2 linked regions of the Homo sapiens genome follow. The protein of the gene in region 1 interacts with the protein of each later gene in a biochemical or structural test. Each region holds a gene or a part of one and is shown in the gene's direction. Other genes may lie near its edges.

Region 1 (11,125 bases):
TTGCATAACTTATATAATAAAACCACCCAAGGACAAAATAAGAAAGGAAAGTCATAGGCAACTCATTTATGAATATACATGCACAATTCCTAAACAAAATCTTAGCAAACTGAATCCAACATTATACTATACCCTGAGACTATTAGGTTTATATAAAAAGTGCAAATATATATTATTTGCTACACTGATATGTTGGATGTGAAAAGCTATATGATCACCTCAATAGATGCAGAAGAGATTATTTGATAAAATTCATTATTTGTTTGTGATTTTTAGAAACCCTTAGTAAACTACACATAGAATTTCCTTCATCTGATATGATAAAATGTATCTACCAAACCAAGCCCAACAAAACTGTAACAAAAGTAACCCCAATAGGCAAATATTGGAGACATTCCCTTTAAAATCAGGAAGTTATGCCTACTGAAATCAAAAGTTATGCCCATTATCACCTCTTCTATTCAACATTGCCTTGAATGTCTAATAAGTTAAGAAAAAGAAAAGACATACATAAAGATTGAAAAGTTGGAAACTGTCATTATTTGAAAATTGTATTTCTGTTTCTACATTTAAAAAACCCAAAAGTATCTACATAAATTTTACAGGAAATAATAAAGTTTAGTAAATGCTTCAATATGAGACCAATGCATTAAAGCTAATTATAGTTCTTTATCCAAACAACAACTAGAAAGTATAACTAAAACAACAACAAATAAACCAGTCATAGTTAGCAACAAAAACTACAGTGCACCTGGGACTAAATGTAATAAACCTCTTCCTACTCCCCCAAATTATAAAAACATTACCAAAGGGAATTAAAGACCAAACATAGATGGAGAGCTAGATCATGTTAATGTATTAGAAGACTTAATAGCATGAAGGTACTGATTCATTTCAAACTGATCTATAAATGTAACTTCAGTAAAGAGTTCAACTAACAGATTGATTTTAATATTTATATGGAAAGGGTTAAAATAGCCAAGACCAATAATAATTAGAAGGATAGGAGGTGCTTGCCATATTATATACAGTAACTTTTTATGAAGCTATTTTGAATAGGATAGTGTAAAATTGGTGCTGGTGTAGAGAAATTGATGAATGGATCAGAACTGAGAGCTCAGAAATGAGTCAGTGTGTATGTGGGGGTGTGTGTTTGTGTAAAACTCTTACTTATGACAAAGATCTCATGGCAGACCACTTGAGGAAAGAAGGGGCTTTGACAGAGCTCTGAAAAAATTTGTTTCTCATATTTAAAAAAGAAATGGCTTTTATCTTCCACCCTACAAATAACAACTTCTGATGGACTAGGAACTTAAGTATCAAAAGCAAACTTTAAAACATAGAAAAGTCTGGGCACCGTGGTTCATCCCTGTAATGCCAGCACTTTGGGAGGCCAAGGCACGTGGATCACTTGAGTCCAGGAATTTGAGACCAGCCTGAGCAACATGGTGAGACCCCATCTCTACAAAAAATACAGAAATTAGTGGGACTTGGTGGTTGTGTGTGCCTGTAGTCCCATCTACTCGGGAGGTTGAGGTGGGAGGATCGATTGAGCTCAGGAAGCAGAGGTTGCAGTGAGCTGAGCTCACACCACTGCACTCTGCCTGGGTAACAGAGTGAGACCCTGTCTCAAAAAACAACAAACAAATAAACTTAGAAGAATATATGTGACTATTGGCCGGGCGCGGTGGCTCACGCCTGTAATCCCAGCACTTTGGGAGGCCGAGGCGGGCAGATCACGAGGTCAGGAGATCGAGACCATCCTGGCTAACATGGTGAAACCTTGTCTCTACTAAAAATAAAAAAATAAAAAATAAAAAATGCGAGGTGGCGGGCACCTGTAGTCCCAGCTATTCAGGAGGCTGAAGCAGGAGAATGGCGTGAACCCGGGAGGCGGAGCTTGCAGTGAGCCGAGATCGCGCCACTGCACTCCAGCCTGGGCGACAGAACGAGACTCTGTCTCAAAAAAATAAATAAATAAATAAAAAATAAAATAAAATAAAATAGAATATATATGACTATCTTTCAGATCTTGTATGTGGAATCATTTCTTAAACATGGTATACAAAATGTTAACCATAAAAGAAAATATTAATAAAATCTATTACATTAAAATTAAGAATGCCTTTTCATCAATTATAGCTTAAGGAAAATGAAAAGGCAAACTCTTAGAAACTAGAAGACTCTTGCTATGCATGTAACTAACAAAGGGATAGCATTCAAAATACATAAAGAACTACAAATCAGTAAGAAAAAGACAAACTACCTAATAGAAAAACGGATAAAAGGAGTACTTATCTTATTAGCAATTAGAGAAATGTATATCAAGACCACAGTGAGATAACATTTTATACCTCTGCAACTGACAAAAACAAAGTCAGATAAAACCAAGTGTTAGAAAGGATATGGATCAATAGGATGTTAAATTGCTGGCGGAAGTGAAACATTTATATAGCCACTTAGAAAAAGACAATTTTGCTCCATGTTTTAAAGTTGAATATTTGAAAAACTTACAACCCAGAAATTCCATTTCTATGTGCATTCTCCAGTACCTTTTGCATATGTGTAGTTTGTTGCAAACAATTATTTCAGTCTATAGAAAGTTATGATCTAGTTTTCTGCCCCAAAGCTGTTTCTCTATCCAAAATATTATGTCTAGCTTGGGTCTGTGATTCACATTTGTGTGCTCAGATCATAATTAAATCATAGGCAAGGAGCGTCATCAAATAAAATATGTATTTGCTATTCTCAAAAAGGGCCTTTGTACTGAGACTGAAATTAGGTGGTAGGTAGGACTGTAATCAGACATGAATAGATAATAGTATTAATAACAGTCACCATTCATTAAGCATGTACTATTTGTCAGATTCTTCAATCTTTATTTAATGGAAATTACTTTGTTAAGTCTTCACAAAGGCTTTCTGATATGGGTACCATTATGAATCTTTTTAAAATGGAGCATAGTGAGCCATTGGGAAGCTAAATAATTTCCACAACTTTATGTTGTAAATTGTAAGGCTGGGATTTAAACAAAGGCTCTCTGACTCCAGCACCTGTGAAATGGCAATATAGAAGCTATTATCTTTCAGATAAAAAGTCAACTTTTCTTAACTTTGCAGAGAGAACAACTCTGATTCGTGGCTATAGGCAATGGTCTGTTGTCTCTAGATGCTTTGTATGATTGTTCAGAAAGTAGTGGTGTATACTTATCTCTACTCATGCAAAACTAAAATTATATATTTTCAGTATTTCAATAGCATTATTTTATAGATGAACAGCAATAAAGTTATCAATGTGATATATATATATCAATGTGATCTGAAGACTTATTTAAAATTATGCCAAGAGATGATTGCCTTGCTTTTATCTAGTTATAAAACTTCTTATCAAATAGACATCATGAAGAATGTCTACCTAAAGATATTTTCAAAAATTTAGATAAAAGATTATTTAAGAGTCCAGTTTGTTTCAAAATTATTATCATTGTCTTAGTCACTCTGGGCTGCTGTAACAGAAAATCATAGACTGGGGTGGCTTAAACAACAAACATTTATTTCTCACAGTTCTGGCAGCTGGATGAGATGAGACTGCCAGCAGGGCTGGGTTTTTTTGTAAGGGTCTTCCTCCTGGTTCATAGACTGCTTTCTTCGTGTATCCTCATAATTCAGAGAAAAGGGGCTCTGGTTCCTTAATTTTCTTATAAGGGAACTAACTCTATGATGGGAGACCCTCGTAACTTAATCTAAGCATAATCTAAGGCCTCCCAAAGGCCTCATCTCTAACATTGGGGATTAAGGTTTCTACAATAGCAATTATTGAGGGTTTCTTTGAGGCTAGGTCATATATCTGATCTGAGGAATTAATTGGTGTATGTATAGACTTTCTGTTCTTATGATATAAAGCAAACGAGCCTATGTATGTGTTGTCCAAAAGTTATTTGATTGCTACCAAAGAGGCAGAATTTTTTTTTTTTTATTGTAGTAGAAAGATCTGGGATGAAAGTTTTGACTCTTGCAATCTAATCCCAGTTTGGCAGTTACCGTCCATGTGAACTTGGACCTGTAATCTGTCACTTTCTAATAGTTGTGCTCTTGGGAAATTTAATTAGATTCTTAATTTTCTCATGTGTCAAAAATACAGATAATAATAAATACCGTACTGGAACATTACAAAGATTAAATAAATAACATGAGAAAGATATAGAAATCCTATATGAGGAAGTCTACCATTTCCTTCCTTCTAAATTCCATTTCCATCTCTTGGGCAAGGTCAGTCACATCTTTGGCTTTAATTTCCTCATCTATAATAATACCAATAGCATGCTTGAGAATCTGTGATTCTGAGCCCTTCTAGGTATTTCTTCCTATATATGTTCAGCTTTAAAAAGTATTGCAAGGATCCTTTATGTAAATAAGCTATTTCTAGGGGATAAAGAAAGTGTGAACTACAACCATTTTATTCCTCTGCTCCAAAAGTAGAGTGCTTTGCTTTGATTTTCTTTCTGACTCAGCAGACAGAGACATCTGCACTGACTTAGAGTTTTCTTGAAAAATTTTTTTGATTCAGTCATATGATCAGAAAGAACAAATGTAAGTCCTCCTGGGATATAGTGTGAATGACATTAAAATATGTCATTAAAACAAACATTTCTTTTCTTTCTTTCTTTTTTTCTTTTTCTTTTTTGAGACAGGGTCTCCCTCTATTGTCCAGGCTGGAGTGCAGTGGCACAATCATATCTCACTGTAGCCTTGACCTCCTGGGCTCAAGTGATCCTCCCACCCCCGCCTCCTGAGAGCTGGGACCACAGGCACGTGCTACCACACCTGACGAATTTTAAAATTTTTTGTATAGACAGGATCTCACTATGTTGCCCAGGGTGCTCTTGACTCCTGGGCTCAAGCGATCCTCCCACCTCAGCCTCCCAAGGTGCTAGGATTACAGGCATGAGCCACTGCACCCAGCATAAAATGAGCATTTATAATTCCAGTATGCTCCTGTGTCGGATGTTTGAGAGTTAAGAGGTACATATACATTTCTTGGCACTTTGAGATGATTAGCTGAACCAGTCACTGCTCTGTTCAACAGGTGGATTTTCGGAAAAGACATATGAATGGAGCTCAGAAGAGGAGGAGCCAGTGAAAAAGGCAGGACCAGTCCAAGTCCTCATTGTCAAAGATGACCATTCCTTTGAGTTAGATGAAACTGCATTAAATCGGATCCTTCTCTCGGAGGCTGTCAGAGACAAGGAGGTTGTTGCTGTATCTGTTGCTGGAGCATTTAGAAAAGGAAAATCATTCCTGATGGACTTCATGTTGAGATACATGTACAACCAGGTATGCAGGAAGTACTTTAAAAAGTTTTCTTTCTTCTGTGCTTCTGTCACTTCATGTTTTTATTTCATGGTGTTCAAAATTTTCATTTCTATTATTATGTACCCTATATATGAACCAGCTAAAGAAATGCTGTGGTGTAACCATTCCAACCTCAGTGCTTTGGGGACCAAACTACACAGACCAATTTTCTCTGAAGCTGCTTTGCTGCATTTCCCTTAGAATATAACTTATATTTTTATTCTTTTAAAAATAGGCACATAATATTCTGATTATAGACTTAAATGTTATAGTGTTTAAAATGTCACATAATTTTTGTATTGTAATCACTTTTTTCCAACATTTAGTATGAAATATTTCAAGCATATAGCAAAGTTAAAAAAATTTTATACTAAACATCTTGGTATCCACCACCCAGATTCTACCATTAACATTAGTATTCCTGCTTTATCACTTATGACTCCATCTATTCATCCCTCTTTCCAGCCATCACTCCAAGTTATTCTTTGATGCATTTGAAAATAAATTGCTGGCCGGGCACTGTGGCTCACGCCTGTAATCCCAGCACTTTGGGAGGCCGAGGTGGGTGGATCACGAGGTCAAGAGATCAATACCATCCTGGCCAACATGGTGAAACCCTGTCTCTACTAAAAAAAAACACACAAAAATTAGCTGGGTATGTTTTCCTTGTCCTTCAAGGTTATTTTTCAGGCTTAGGATTTTTATGAATATCTCAATGTAGATCATTGACTCAGAGTGAATGTTATGGAAATGTTATTATGCTAATTAATAATAATCACAATTTATTCATTGAAGTATGCATCCCAAGACATTTTTCCAGGTAATACCTTATTGGAAAAATTTCAATTTCTACCTCAATAGTAATTATTTATTGACTACCTGCTAAATGTTCTAGATTGTGCTAGGCACTATGGTGGATACCAAAGAAAACATACCATAGATTTTGCACTTAGGCATCTCATGGTTTGGCCAAGGAGACAGAATAACAATAGGTGAAATATTTAGAGCATCATTACATGGTGATATGGTGACAGATATATTTTTTCTTTTCTTTCTTTCTTTTTTTTTTTTTTTTTTTTTGATACAGAGTTTCACTCTTGTTACCCAGGCTGGAATGCAGTGGCGCAATCTTGGTTCACTGCAACCTCTGCCTCCCGGGTTCAAGGATTCTCCTGCCTCAGCCTCCCAAGTAGCTGGGATTACAAGCATGCGCCACCACATCTGGATAATTTTTTGTATTTTTAGTAGAGACAGGGTTTCACTATGTTGACCAGGCTGGTCTCAAACTCCTAACCTTGTGATCCACCTGCCTCGGCCTCCCAAAGTGCTGAGATTACAGACATGAGCCACCATGCCCAGCCTGATCGACGTATTTCTAAGTGTAGTTCAGGGAAGGGCATATTGTAGGCAAAAGTAACTGGAGAAAGCTTCATAGAGATATTGGAAGTTAGAATAGATTTTGAAGATGTGTGGATCTGGACCAGAAAAGGAAGAATGGACATTCTGGACTATGAGGAATAAGTATAATATATGTATTAAACAGAGTGTACACCTTCTTCCCTAGAGTGGAAATTAAGTATTGGAGATGAAGAAGAAATAAGATTGAATAGGTTATTGAGCCAGATAATAGAACAAATTCACAGAAGAACCAAAGCTCTTGATAACGGTCTAAAATGCCTTTTAGAACAAGATAGGATATAATTAAATACATTTTTCTTTAAATTAGTTTATGTAGATTTTTTATCAGTCCAAGTAGTCCTCTCCCAAATTCCTCTGCATTCGTTACTGTAAGGTTTTAGATTGGACAATTATCTAATGAGATCTTCCAAAAACTAATAACTTATTCTCTGTAACAGATATCAAAATGGGGGTAACTACTATCAACCAAGGTCACCAATTACTGACTTACTAAATCTATGGGATATTTTCCATGCCTTATCCAACTTGATCTTCAGCCTTTAAACAATTGATAATTTTTCCTATTCTGTCTTCCTTTGGCTTCTCAAACTCCACTTGCATCAGTACTTGTCTATTCCTTCCTGCTGTCCTGGCCCTGGTCAGACCTTCAATCATATTTTTGACCTTTATTATAGCACCCCCACCTTTATCTTTTCTAGCTATCATTTCCCTTCCCTACTAACTAGCCCTACCTACTTCTAGAATAGTATCTTTCTACCACAACTATGATGATAATTCATCTCTGCTTCTTCATAACTTTCCGTCGCCTGCAGGATAAAATCTGACTCCCTTAAGGACCTTACAAGGTCTTTCAGAATCTGGCTGTCTGTCCAGCCTCTTCCTGCTACTTGCTTCCTCCTCCCACAAAACCAAAGCATAATATGCTCCCTACTTCCTTCCTTTCTGCCTGCCTGCCTGCTTGCCTTCCTTTCTGGAATGCCTTCTCCAAATTTGCTTCCCTGGAAAATTCCTAAATATTTTTCAAGTCTTAGCTCAAACATCCTATGTGGTCTTGCCTGACCAATGGTTAGTTATTTATTTTCTATGCTACCATTTATGCATTATATATACTTCCATTTTGGCATGCATTTATTGCATCATAATGGTTTGTTTGCATGTCTGTCTCGCTGTTAGGCTGTGAATTTCCTCTGGTCTGCAATGATATCTTTTCATTTTTATATCCCCAGGACATATCAAAAATGTGGCAGATGGTTGCTCCTCTGTAATTATTTTTTGGATGAATAAAGTGATGGTATCAATGCAATAGATGTGCATATGTTGTTTCCTTTTAACTCGAATTGGAGAGGGATAAGAATCAGAATGAATGAATGGAAAAAACTATATACACATATCAAGTTCCATATCATAGACTTTATCATTTTATAGGAATCAGTTGATTGGGTTGGAGACTACAATGAACCATTGACTGGTTTTTCATGGAGAGGTGGATCTGAGCGAGAGACCACAGGAATTCAGATATGGAGTGAAATCTTCCTTATCAATAAACCTGATGGTAAAAAGGTATGATGCTAACTTCCTAAATAAAATTGAGTTTTCACTTATAACAGTTACTACTTTTTAGGATCCTTGAAGTTGCACTTTTGAAAATTAATTTTGACCATTTGACATGAAGCTTAAAGTGGGGTAGCATCCTATAGCATGATCTTTGTTTCCCTTTCTTGTGATCAGAGTAGGCGAAATTATAACGATGATAGAACAGCAGATCAGCAAGTAACATCTGTATTTTGTTTCACTGCTACATAAAGTTTCTGTTACGTTGGATTACTAGTAAAAATTACTTATAATAGTAATCAGCTGTTAATATTTTTATTTTCTGTGGCATTCATGGCATGTGTAAGAAATTATCTAAAATAGTATTGATTAATAATGGTTTGCTTTAGTTCTTATATTAATATTATGGTAACCCTAATGACCTAGATGTTCTATAAAATATCAATAATGTACTCTTCTTGCCTGTAGGTTGCAGTGTTATTGATGGATACTCAGGGAACCTTTGATAGTCAGTCAACTTTGAGAGATTCAGCCACAGTATTTGCCCTTAGCACAATGATCAGCTCAATACAGGTATGAAATAAGCCCATTTTGATGATGTTTCTTTAACTAAAAATTATGAGTATATGTGTTTCTACATACATGTTATAATTAGATAAACAACAGAAATTGGGAATCATATATATTGTTTGACTCAATTAGCATACGAGTTCTCGTGATTTCTGTGAGAGTGGAATTGTTTTTGTTACTGTAGTTTAATTACTGACAAACTTTCAAATTGACTGCTTTGGTTAGAAAAGGTCATATTATCTTATTGGGATTTTTGTTGTTGTTGTTTAAAGCCTACAATAAACTCAGTAACATAAATCTTATATGCGTATACATTGAGACCATCTATTGTAAGTTATGTTTAATGAAACAGTGTTTATAAATATAAATTTTGTTCTACATAGCCAGTAGAAACATTTCTAAATGTAAAAACATTTACATGTGTTCATAGCTTTTAAAAACACCTTAATGTACATTTAGGAAAGTAAATAGCTTATATATAAAATTTATCTTTCTTTCCTTTCCTTTTTTCTTTCACTTTTTTAAAAGTCTTATTTTTGAGGTTATTGTGGGCTTTCTAAATTGTCCTGAAAATCCTTGTAGAGTTTTATTAGAACCATAGAATCCATAGCATAAAAGATTTTAAGACTATTTTTAGATATTTTCAATCCACTGGCAAAAGCAAAAAGAGAGTGGCCAAGGAACAGGGCAGATCAATAAAAAAAGGTAAGATAGCTTAAAAAGGCAGAAAAGGCAAAGCAGTTAGGATGAGTGAGTCAAGACTAAAATTACAAGCAAGCATAGAGAATGGAGCTAGTGAACCAGCAACAAGGGCGTCATATATGATTAGGACAACCAAGACAGGGTAAACAGAAGGAGGAAGGAAGACTGAATTTATTAAATAAAGGACTTTAAAGTAAAAGTCATAAAAAAAAAAGTCATGGTTATAACCTACTTAATCAACTTTTAAAAATTAACTTTTCTTTCAGTTGACAAATAAAAATTATATATATTGGCCAGGCACGGTGGCTCACGCCTGTAATCCCAGCACTTTGGGAGGCCGAGGCGGGCGGATCACGAGGTCAGGAGATCGAGACCATCCTGGCTAACACGGTGAAACCCCGTCTCTACTAAAAATACAAAAAATTAGCCGGGCATGGTGGCAGGCGCCTGTAGTCCCAGCTACTCGGGAGGCTGAGGCAGGAGAATGGCGTGAACCCAGGAGGCAGAGCACTTGCAGTGAGCCGAGATTGCGCCACTGCACTCCAACCTGGGTGACAGGGCGAGACTCCCGTCTCAAAAAAAAAAAAAAAAATATATATATATATATATGTGTGTGTGTGTGTGTGTAAATTATATATATATGTGTGTACATATATCTGTATATATATAATGTACAATATGATATTTTGAATACACACATTGTATAAGCCTTTAAAATACTGACTTAATCTAATTTATTGTAATTCACAGTGTAAGCCATACTTATACAAGCCTATTTAAACCAGATTGACTTTGCCTTATCAGTATTACTCATTATTTATATTTGACCTGAATACATTGAATATTTTCAGAGAAAAATCTGCTAATTCCTTAGTAATGACTTTTTTTAATTATGTGAGAAATGATGATCTGTTATTTAAATAAGTATACAGAGCATTCTTTTTATATCAGTACATAAATATATAAGCCTCCTTAACTTTTCTTTGAAGTTAATGATATTTATTTCCCTCAAAAAATGTCATCTTAATGCTGTTATCACATATATATATAAGGATGTGAGCATGATATTCAGAACCTAACTTCCATGTGATGAAACTCTGTATAGACATAAATAAAATGATTAATTGTGAAGAAGTCAACATGATTTTTCAAAACAAAATTTTCCATATGGCTTGCTGAGATTTAGATTGTTATTATTTTGTCTTGCTTGGAAGAATGAGTTTTTTTGACTAATTGCATAAATTAGGTTCATAAAATAATTTTAATATTCCATCTCCAGAGCAGGTGACTACTGTATTTCTGGAACCATTTTATAATCATTGTTCATTCCTTATTGTCTCTCAAGCTTATTTTACTTCTCTCTCAAGGTCTTACAAATATCATGTAAGCATGTACATAAGAGAGTCCATTTTGTGGTAACTGATATTTTTAAAAGTAGGGAATGATGAAGTAAGTGCTTAGGATGATGCCAGTTATCTTATCATTGTAATTTTATTTCTTTATCAAGGTATATAACTTATCCCAAAATGTCC
Region 2 (11,024 bases), on another chromosome or scaffold:
GAACATATGAATGAGGCTAGCTAGGCCATACAGCCATTCGGTCAAGCCATCAGATGACTACATCCACAGGAATGATCCACAGGCAAGGCCATCAGAAGAACCATCCAGCTGAACTTACCCCAAATTGCTGAGTCACAAAGTTGTGTGTAAATAAATGTCTGCTATCTTAAGCCAGTGAGTTTTGGAGTGGTATATTACATAGCATCAGAAATCTAACACAATCATTATGTTTGAATCATTTTTCAAATTTCTCATATTTATTAAATGAGTACCATAAGCAAGGTGTCAGGCTGGATGCAAAAAGTGAGGCAAAATGTATAAAGTGTGACCACTGCCTTCAGTAAGTTTACAATCTATATCAAGAGGTGATGAAGTGTTTAAATAATCATCCTGCAGGGCAATATAGTATAAGAGCCACAGAGTAACACAACCATATTGTCATAACAACTGAAAAACAAGATCATTTCTGCTGGAGGTGATAATGGAATAATTTATCAAGAATATAACAGAGCTGGACGCGGTGGCTCACACCTGTAATCCCAGCACTTTGGGAGGCCAAGGAAGGTGGATCACAAGGTCAGGAGTTCGAGACCATCCTGGCTAACACGATGAACCCGTCTCTACTAAAAATACAAGAAATTAGCCGGGCGTGGTGGCACGCGTCTGTAGTCGCAGCTACTCAGGAGGCTGAGGCAGGAGAACCACTTGAACATGGGAAGCAGAGGTTGCATTGAGCTGAGATCGTGCCATGGCACTCCAGCCTGGGTGACAGAGTGAGACTCAGTCTCAAAAAAAAAAAAAAAAAAAAAAATATAACATTAGAGGTAAGTCTTGAAGGACTTTGACAGTGGAAGTAGGAGGCGAGGCCATTCTAAGTGAATGAAAAATGACAGGAGAGTAATTGTAGTCCTGGAAAAGAGCAAAGTAGGTACAGACCAACAGTCTATATTAGCTAGAGTATAGTGAAAGTGCAGAGGAAATGTCGGAGAACCATTCTTTATTCAAAAACTATCTTCCTCATGGCCAAGCATAGTGGCTCATGCCTGTAATCCCAGCATTTTGGGAGGTCAAGGTGAGTGGATCACTTGAGCTCAGGAATTCAAGACCATCTGGGGCAACATAGTGAGACCTCATCTCAACTAAAAAACAAAAAATTCAGACAGATGCAGTGGCTCACACCTGTAATCCCAGAACTTTGGTAGGCTGAGGCGGGCGGATCACGAGGTCAGGAGATCAAGACCCTCCTGGACAACATGGAGAAACCCCATCTCTATTAAAAATACAAAATTAGCTGGGCATGGTGGCACATCCCTGTAATCCCAGCTACTCGGGAGGCTGAGGCAGGAGAATCGCTTGAACCAGGGAGTCGGAGGTTGCAGTGAGCCGAGATCGCACCACTGCACTCCAGTCTGGCGACAGAGCGAGACTCCATCTTAAAAAATAAATAAATTTTAAAAAAAACTACCCCAGCATGGTGGTGCATGCCTGTAGTCCCAGTTACTCAGGAGGCTGAGGCAAGAGGGTGGTTTGAGCCAGGGAGGTCAAGGCTGCAGTGAGCTCTGATGGCGCCACTGTACTCCAGCTTGGGTGACAGAGTGAGACCTTGTCTCAAAAACAAAAACAAAAACAAAAAACCAACAAATCTCCTTGTTAGTATCATGGTGAGTAAAAAATAAAATAAAAATAGAAATAAACTGAACATGGTGGCTCATGCCTGTAATCCTAGCACTTTGGAAGGCTGAAGTGGGAGGATTGCTTGAGGGCTGGAGTTCAAAACTGGCTTGGGCAACACGGTGAGAGAGACCTTGTCTCTACAAAAGAACTTTTAAAACAAAAAATAGATAATTTAAAAAAATTAAAAAAAACAAAAAATAAAAAAATAATCAAGTATCAACTTGATTCCAGGCACTGCTTACTACTCTAGTGTTATACTGTAGATGTGGAAGCTGAGTAACTCATCCAAGATCACCGAAAGTGATGGAACACAGATCTAAATGCAACCAGTCTGACTCCAGGACCATTTAACCATTCTACTATTGGGCCCTATCTTGGCTAAGTTAGAAAGTAAGTTACTTTCTTTAGTGGTAAAGACTGGAGGGATAACAGGGAAGATAGTTATTTAAGAAAAAAAACTGGCATCAAACTAAATATCCATCAATAGTTGAACAGTAAAATAGGTTGTGGTAAATTCATATAATGGAATACTATATAGCAGTGAAAATGTACCACAGTTATAGAAATCAACAGGGAGGAATTTCAACACTTAATTATTAAGTAGGTAGCCAGGCATAGCGGTTTATGCCTGTAATCCCAGCACTTTGGGAGACCAAGACAGGAGGATTACTTGAGCCCAGGGGTTCGAGATCAACCTGGGCAACAGTGAGACTCCATCTCTATTTTCTTAAAATAAAATAAATGAAATTTTAAAAATTTTGAGGAGGGAAAGCAAACAAGGGATACTTGAAATATGATTACATTTCCATAAAGTCAAAGTGAGGCAAAATCATACAAGACATTGTTTAGAAATACATAAATACACTGCAAACTAAAAATGAGACACTAGAATGATTAATATAAAATTCAGGATAGTGGCTTCCTCTAGAGGAAGAGACAAGACATTGAGATTAGGGAGGAGCTCACAGAGTGCTTCGAGGAGTTGGTTACATTCATTTTTCTTAAATGGAATGCTGCTTATTATTTTTCTTTAAATTGTGCATTTAAGTAACACACTTCTTGTTTATATGATATATGTATAAATGTAATTTTTTTTTTTGAGATGGAGTTTCGCTCTTGTTGCCCAGGCTGGAGTGCAATGGCACTATCTTGGCTCACTGCAACCTCCACTTCCTGGGTTCAAGTGATTCTCCTGCCTCAGCCTCCCGAGTAGCTGGGATTACAGGCATGCGCCACCATGCCCGGCTAGTTTTGTATTTTTAATAGAGAAAGGGTTTCTCCATGTTGGTCAGGCTGGTCTCGAACTCCCGACCTCAGGTGATCCGCCTGCCTTGGCCTCCCAAAGTGTTGGGATTACAGGTGTGAGCCACCGTGCCAGGCCCTGAATCAGATTTAAAAGAGGGCATTTCATTAAAAAAAATTTTTTGTTGTTTGCTTTTGAGACAGAGTCTCGCTCTGTCGCCCAGGCTGCAGTGCATTGGCATGATCTTGGCTCACCGCGGCCTCAGCCTCCCAGGTTCAAGTGATTCTCCTGCCTCAGCCTCGCACTAGTTGAGATTACAGGAATGCACCACCACCACAGGAATGCACCTGTCTAACTTTTGTATTTTTAGTATAGAGGGAGTTTTGCCATGTTAGCCAGGCTGCTCTTGAACTCCTGACCTCCGGTGATCTGCTCGCCTCGGCTCCCAAAGTTCTGGGATTACAGGCGTGAGCCACCACACCCGGCCGAAAGAGGGCATTTCAGAATGAGGGTCTAGCATAAGCACAGAGAAGGGGGAGCAATAAGAGGGAAACAGGGAGTAGGTCATTTTTGCAATAGCCTGTGACATTTGTAGGGCAGTACTGGCGGGGAATAATTAAGTAAAATTGGCTGGTGCTGTGGCTCATGCCTGTAATCCCAGCACTTTGGGAGGCCGAGGCGGGCAGGTTGCTTGAGCCCAGGAATTCAAGACCAACCTGGGAAACATAGCAAGACCCTGTCTCAACAAAAAAGTAAAAAAATTAGCTGGGGGCGCGATGGGGTGGCTCATGCCTGTAATCCCAACACTTTGGAAGGCTGAGGCAGGCGGATTGCTTGAGCCCAGGAGTTGGAGACCAGCCTGGGCAACATGGTGAAACCCTGGCTCTATAAAGAATACAAAAATTAGTCGGGCCCAGTGGCGTGTGCCTGTGATCCCAGCTACTCGGGAGGCTGAGGTGGAAGGATCACCTGAGCCAGGGAGGTGGAGGTTGCAGTGAGTCATGTTGTTTGCGCCACTGCACTCCAGCCTGGGCAATGGAGTGAAACCCTGTCCAAAAAATAAAAAAATAAAGCTGTGGCAGAATGTGGAGATTCTTGGAAGCTGGAAGCTCTCATGGGGCATTTGGAAACCTCACATTGTAAATAACGGAGTCTTTTTATCAGTTTGGCTTCCTTAGTTTTAGGAAACAAGAAATAATTATGGCTAACTCAAGTAAAAAGAGAAAGAGAAGAGAAAAAAGACGTGGAGATAGAGAGAGAGGGAGAGAGAGGAAAAGACGAAAGGAAGGAAGGGGGAAAGGAGAGAGGAAGAGAGAAACAGAGAAACAGACTGATTAGTGTATTGGATAGATTACATAACCAAGTGACCAGTCAGGAACCCAGCAGCTCTGGGGGAGCTCAATGTGATGCATTGATAAACCCGCTCTTAAGAGCACTCGTTTCCAGTTACTTTCTATTCGGTGGGTCTCCAGCCAAGATTCCAGGTCCCAGGAGAATCTGACTGACCTAGTGTTTGCTTCCGCCTTTGCGGTCTGGGTTCTGTGCTTGCAGCTCATTAGAATACAGGGAGCAGAGACAAGCAGGTAGTTTCCCAAAGGAAGGGATGCTGAGTAGATTAAAAAAAAAGTGTAGATTCTTCAGTAAACTATGGGATGGTAACTATGCAAAACCTAAGATTTCCCTTATTCAAATAAATTATCTTTCATATTAGACATCTAAATATGCACTAATTTAGTTAAACCCCTGGGTTAGTTGATCTCATCACACTGAGCTAACATTTTTGTTGCTGTTGTTTGCAGTGACCTGAAGTTTCTTATCTTCACAATTGCTTTCCTCTCAAATAATTCCCAGATTTTAAATTTTTATTTTATTTTTTCTGGAGACGGAGTCTCGCTCTGTCGCCCAGGCTGGAGTGCAGTGGCGCGATCTCAGCTCACTTGCAGCCTCTGCCTCCCGAGTTCAAGCGATTCTCCGGCCTTAGCCTTCCAACCAGCTGGGACTACAGGCGCGCGCCCCCACGCCCGGCTAATTTAATTCCCAGATTGATATCCATTGCTTCTGAGATGGGCCAATTATCCTTCGGAGAAGACTTAGGTCGCCTGGCAGAAAAAGATGAAAGAAATCTAAGAAAACGACGACACTGAGAGAGGAGCCTAGCGAACCAGCAGAGCGACCCCAAGCCGCAATTCCCCCTTCCGTGGATCGATTACGAAGGCTTCCTGGCAGGAGCTCTCCAGGGCTGCCGACGTGAGCCGAACTGCACATTGGGAACTGTAGTTGAGTGGGAAAGCCGAGAGGCGGGGGCCGCACACGCGTACAGGGGCCCCGGTCAACAAAGACGCGCCGTGCGCGCGCGCGCCGGAGAAAAACACGGGAAGACGTGCGCGTGCGCGGCCGCCGCTGGGAGCCACCAGGCGGCGGAGAGGACAGCGACAGGAAGGGAGGGGCCCGAGCCACCGACTGCAGGAGGAGAAGGGGTTGTGCTCCTGGCCGAGGAAGGAGAAAGGGGCGGGGCCGGCGGGCAGCGTGCGGCAGTGCGGAGCTCCTGAGACCGGCGGGCACACGGGGGTCTGTGGCCCCCGCCGTAGCAGTGGCTGCCGCCGTCGCTTGGTTCCCGTCGGTCTGCGGGAGGCGGGTTATGGCGGCGGCGGCAGTGAGAGCTGTGAATGAATTCTCCGGGTGGACGAGGGAAGAAGAAAGGCTCCGGCGGCGCCAGCAACCCGGTGCCTCCCAGGCCTCCGCCCCCTTGCCTGGCCCCCGCCCCTCCCGCCGCCGGGCCGGCCCCTCCGCCCGAGTCGCCGCATAAGCGGAACCTGTACTATTTCTCCTACCCGCTGTTTGTAGGCTTCGCGCTGCTGCGTTTGGTCGCCTTCCACCTGGGGCTCCTCTTCGTGTGGCTCTGCCAGCGCTTCTCCCGCGCCCTCATGGCAGCCAAGAGGAGCTCCGGGGCCGCGCCAGCACCTGCCTCGGCCTCGGCCCCGGCGCCGGTGCCGGGCGGCGAGGCCGAGCGCGTCCGAGTCTTCCACAAACAGGCCTTCGAGTACATCTCCATTGCCCTGCGCATCGATGAGGATGAGAAAGGTAACTAGGGGGCTGGGGGAGGGGGCGGCGGCGCCGGGAAGAAGGCGGTGGGGTCGCCGGGGGAGGGCAACACCTGCGTCCCTTTTCTGCGGGAGGGGACGGTGCACCCCCGGAATTGATATGCCCCGGGAGACTGCTTTCCCGTAGGTCGGAGCCTCATCTTCTAGTATTCTTAAAACCTCTCCCCTTTCAGGGCACTGTAGCTGTCGACTTTGTTTCAGACACCAGCCTTCCCCCACACTTCTGCATGACCCAGGTCACTATGAGACACCCAGACGTGTTGATGACAGTGACATTTGTCCTAGAGTGACCACACTGATCCTTTCTAGCACTGTGAAGAGTGTGCAGCTTCCTCTGAACCAAGGTTTCCAAAAGGTTTTGATATTGAAGAAGCAGTGCCGCCTTACTGGCTTTTAATGAAAGCAGAGTATTGTAGTGTCAGAAAAAAAGAACAAATGGTGACAATTTTGAAAGAAATAGCTGCATATGACTGCAGTTGAATTTGCATCATTTTAATCAAGATAATCATTTTATCAGTACAACGATTCCTGAATACTTTTTCAATGAAGTTATATTTAGCATAAAACTTTTCCCCCTGTTGCTTTGATTTTAATTAAAACAGTATTCCAAAGTAGCCTTTAATTTCCAAGTTGAAATGTTTGATGAATGGATTGCGTAAACTTAAACATACCACTTTACAGTAAAACCTAAAACAACTATGTATGTTTCTGAATGAAAGCAAGGATACTACATCTTTCGGGTTTCTTTTAAGCTAACTTTTTTTTTTTTTTGAGACGGAATCTCGCCCTGTCGCCCAAGCTGGAGTGCAATGGTGCAGTCTCGGCTCACTGCAACCTCCGACTCCCTGGTTCCAGCGATTCTCCTGCCTCAGCCTCCCGAGTAGCTGGGATTACAGGCACGCACCACCACGCCTGGCTAATTTTTGTATTTTTAGTAGAGTAGGGATTTCACCATGTTGGCCAGGATGGTCTCCATCTCCTGACCTCGTGATCGGGTCGCCTCGGCCTCCCAAAGTGCTGGTAATACAGGCATGAGCCACCGCGCCTGGCCTTAAGCTAACATTTTTTATTATATGTGCCAGGCATTGTGCTATTAGCTTTGCATGTGTTATCTTTTTTCTTTTTAAAAAAAATAGCAACCATCCCAGACCATGAAAAGTGTTATTTAATCCTCACAATAACTTTGTGAGATGAAGGTATTATTGGTATCAGCATTTTAGAGATGAAGAAAATGAGGCCCAAAAGATAAAGGAGGTTATTCCAAACCTGTGCTAATAATGAAATTTCTTTTATGGAAAATAAGTGAAATTAGGAGAAGTCTAACTTTTACAATTCTCCCCTTTTATCCTTACTTCCAGTATGCTGAGATCTTGCTTCTCCCTCTGCCAAAAACACCCACTTTTCTACCACACCTCAATTAGATACTCACTTGCATTGTCCATTAGTGAAAACAGAAACAATCTGCACTTCATTCATAGTGTCTGTCTCTACTGCCAACTCCAAAAACTGTTCTAGAATTTCAATCTTGTTGAAACCTGTTTCCTTTGTGGGGCCTGGGAGTGGGAAGTGGGATATAAGGAAAGAGGCAGTTATTCATTGTTTTGGACAGTAAGGAAAGAGTGACGGTTAAGAGAGGTCAAGGAGGGTGTTAACATTTAAGAATACTATGTGTTTGTAGAAGGAAATTTTTTGTTAACTGCTCCATTCTTTTTTTTTTTTTTTTTTGAGATGGAGTCTCCCTGTGTCACCCAGACTGGAGTGCAGTGGCGTGATCTCAGCTTACTGCAACCTCTGCCTCCCAGACGCAGGCGATTCTCTTGCCTCAGTCTCCCGAGTAGCTGGAACCACAGGTGCGCCCTATCACGGCTGGCTAATTTTTTGTATTTTTAGTAGAGATGGTGTTTCACCATGTTGGCCAGACTGGTCACGAACTCCTGACCTCAGGTGATTCGCCTGCCTCGACCTTCCAAGTGCTTGGATTACAGGTGTCAGCCACTGTGCCCACCCAGCAAGCTCCATTCTTTATCACCTCTTAAGAACATCCAGGATCCCTTGGGGAGAATTAAAACGGTTGCAAAGTTTTAGAATAGAGGAACATGTTTAAGCGTAGATCATTTTTTGGGCCAGTCATGGTGGCTCACGCGTGTAATCCCAACACTTTGGGAGGCCGGGGCGGGTGGATCATGAGGTCAAGAGTTTGAGACCATCCTGGCCAACATGGTGAAATCCCATCTCTACTAAAAATACAAAAATTAGCTGGGCATGGTGACACATGCCTGTAGTCCCAGCTACTCAGGAGGCTGAGGCAAGAGAAGTGCTTGAACCTGGAAGGTGGAGGTTGCAGTGAGCCGAGATCGTGCCACTACACTCCAGCCTGGGCGGCAGAGCAAGACTCCGTCTTGAAAAAAAAAAGTAGGTCATTTTTGGCTGGGCACGGTGGCTCATGCCTGTAATTCCAGCACTTTGGGAGGCTGAGGTGGGTGGATTGCTTGAGCCCAGGAGTTTGAGACCAGCCTGGGCAACATAGTGAAACCCTGTCTTTGTGAAAAATACAAAGATTAGCTAGGCGCAGTGGCAAATGCCTGTAGTCCCAGCTACTTGGGGGGCTGAGGTAGGAGGATCACTTGAGCTCAGGTTGTTCAGGCTGCAATGAGCTGAGATCGTGCAACTGCACTCCGAACTGGGTGACAGGAGTAAAACTGTCTCAAAAAAAAAAAAAAAAAAAACCAAAAAAAAAAAAACTGTTTTAATTGTTTTATTTAGGAAGAGAAAGTCAGAACATGCAAGGAAATTTTTTTTATTTGTTTATTTTTGAGACGGAGTCTCGCTCAGTTGCCCAGGCTGGAGTGCAATGGTATGATCTTGGCTCACTGCAACCTCTGCCTCCCGGATTCAAGCGATTCTCCTGCCTCAGCCTCCTGAGCAGCTGGGATTACAGGTGTATGCCACCACGCCCAGCTAATTTTTGTGTTTTTAGTAGAGATGGGGTTCCACCATGTTGGCCAGGCTGGTTTCGAGCTCCTGACCTCAAGTGAACCGCCCTCCTTGGCCTCCCAAAGTGCTGGGATTACAGGTGTGAGCCGCGGTGACCGACCACAAGGAAATTTTAGTTAACACTGTTGGTTGATGGGAGTTGGGAGGTAGGATAAAAGGAGAAATTAAGGAAAACCTAGGCATGAAAAATAAAAGACCCTGAGCTCTTAGATTTGAAGAAATAGCAGTTCCATGTGAGGAATAAGTGGAAGAAATAGAATTCAGACCTCAGGTCTCAGGCTGGTGACTTAAATCTTTCAGTATCACATATATGAATATATCTATTATACTTAAATCCTCCTAAACATTTTTATTTTTCAGTTGGATATATTAAATATATAAAAATAATTATTTAATTTATTTTAGAGACAGTGTTTCACTCTCTTACCCAAGCTGGAGTGGAATGTGATCATAGCTCACTGCAGCCTCAAGGCTCATTCCTAGGCTTAAGTGATCCTCTTTTTTTTTTTTTTGCTAGAGATAGGATCTTGTTATGTTAGCCAGGCTGGAGAAATTTCAACAATATTTTGAACAATAAAAAAAAAATAAATTAGGTTTTATTGTAAAGTGGTATGTTTAAGTTTACGCCATTCTCCTGCGTAATGCATATTTCATACTCTTCCTACTGATAATGTTTCTGTTCACAACTTTTTCTTTATATTTTGATTTCTTTTCTCTTTTCTTTTTTTTTTTTTTTGAGACAGAGCCTCGCTTTGTCGCCCAGGCTAGAGTGCAGTGGCGCGATCTCGGCTCACTGCTAGCTCCGCCTCCCGGGTTCACGCCATTCTCCTGCCTCAGCTTCCCGAGTAGCTGGGACTACAGGCGCCCGCCACCATGCCCAGCTAATTTTTTGTATTTTTAGTAGAGACGGGGTTTCACTGTGTTAGCCAGGATGGTCTCGATCTCCTGACCTCGTGATCCACCCGCCTCGGCCTCCCAAAGTGCTGGGATTACAGGCGTGAGCCACCGCGCCCGGCACATATTTTGATTTCTAATGTGGACATCAGAATGGGCTGTTGACAGCTCTTTTTTTTTTTTTTGAGGCAGAGTCTCGCTTCTTCACCCAGGCTGGAGTGCAATGGCGCGATCTCAGCTCACTGCAACCTCCACCTCCCAGGTTCAAGCGATTCTCCTGCCTCAGCCTCCCCAGTAACTGGGATTACAGGCATGTGCCACCCCACACCCAGCCAATTTTTGTATTTTTAGTAGAGACAGCATTTCACCATGTTGGCCAGGCTGTTCTCGAACTCCTGGCCTCAAGTGATCCACTCGCCTTGGCCTCACAAACTGCTAGGATTACAGGTGTGAGCCACCGTGCCCAGCCTTGACAGGTCTTTAGTTTGATTTTAGTTCAACAACTGATGCCGTAATATGCCAAATTAAATTAGTTCAGACTGAAACGGATTACTTAAAGATTCATTTTCCTTTAAAAATGAAGTAAAACTTTAGCCGGATGTGGTGGCGGGTGTGTGTAATCCCAGCTACTCGGGAGGGTGAGGCAGGAGAATCGCTTGAACCCAGGAGGTGGAGGTTGCAGTGAGCTGAGATCTCACCCATTGCACTCCTGCCTGGGTGAGAAGAGTGAGACTCCATCAAAAAAAAAAAAAAAGGCTGGGCATGGTGGCTCAAGCCGGGTGCAGTGGCCCATGCCTGTTATCCCAGCACTTTGGGAGGCAGAGGCAGGCGGATCACTTGTAGTCAGAAGTTCGCGACCAGCCTGGCCAACATATTAGTGAAACCCCGTCTCTACTAAAAATACAAAAATTAGCTGGGCATAGTGGTGCACGCCTGTAGTCCCGGGTACTTGGGACGCTGACGCAGGACAATTGCTTGAACTCCAGAGGTGGAGATTGCGGTGGGCCAAGATCACGCCACTGCACGCCAGCCTGGGCAACAGAGCAAGACTCCATCTCTCAAAAAAAAAAAAAAAAGAAAACTGAGTTTATATTGTTATGGTTCTTATCTATCTTAAA

Evidence for each region.
Region 2: the proteins of ATL1 (region 1) and SPAST form a complex in vitro, tested with the Homo sapiens proteins (one study listed by IntAct).

What each region holds. Positions count from the first base shown.
Region 1 is NC_000014.9:50,582,746-50,593,870, forward strand, and holds part of ATL1 (atlastin-1), read left to right. Parts: intron 1-5,085; coding exon 5,086-5,333; intron 5,334-8,195; coding exon 8,196-8,330; intron 8,331-8,789; coding exon 8,790-8,894; intron 8,895-11,100; coding exon 11,101-11,125.
Region 2 is NC_000002.12:32,058,249-32,069,272, forward strand, and holds the start of SPAST (spastin), read left to right. Parts: upstream 1-5,307; 5' UTR 5,308-5,583; coding exon 5,584-5,998; intron 5,999-11,024. UniProt on the Homo sapiens protein: ATP-dependent microtubule severing protein that specifically recognizes and cuts microtubules that are polyglutamylated.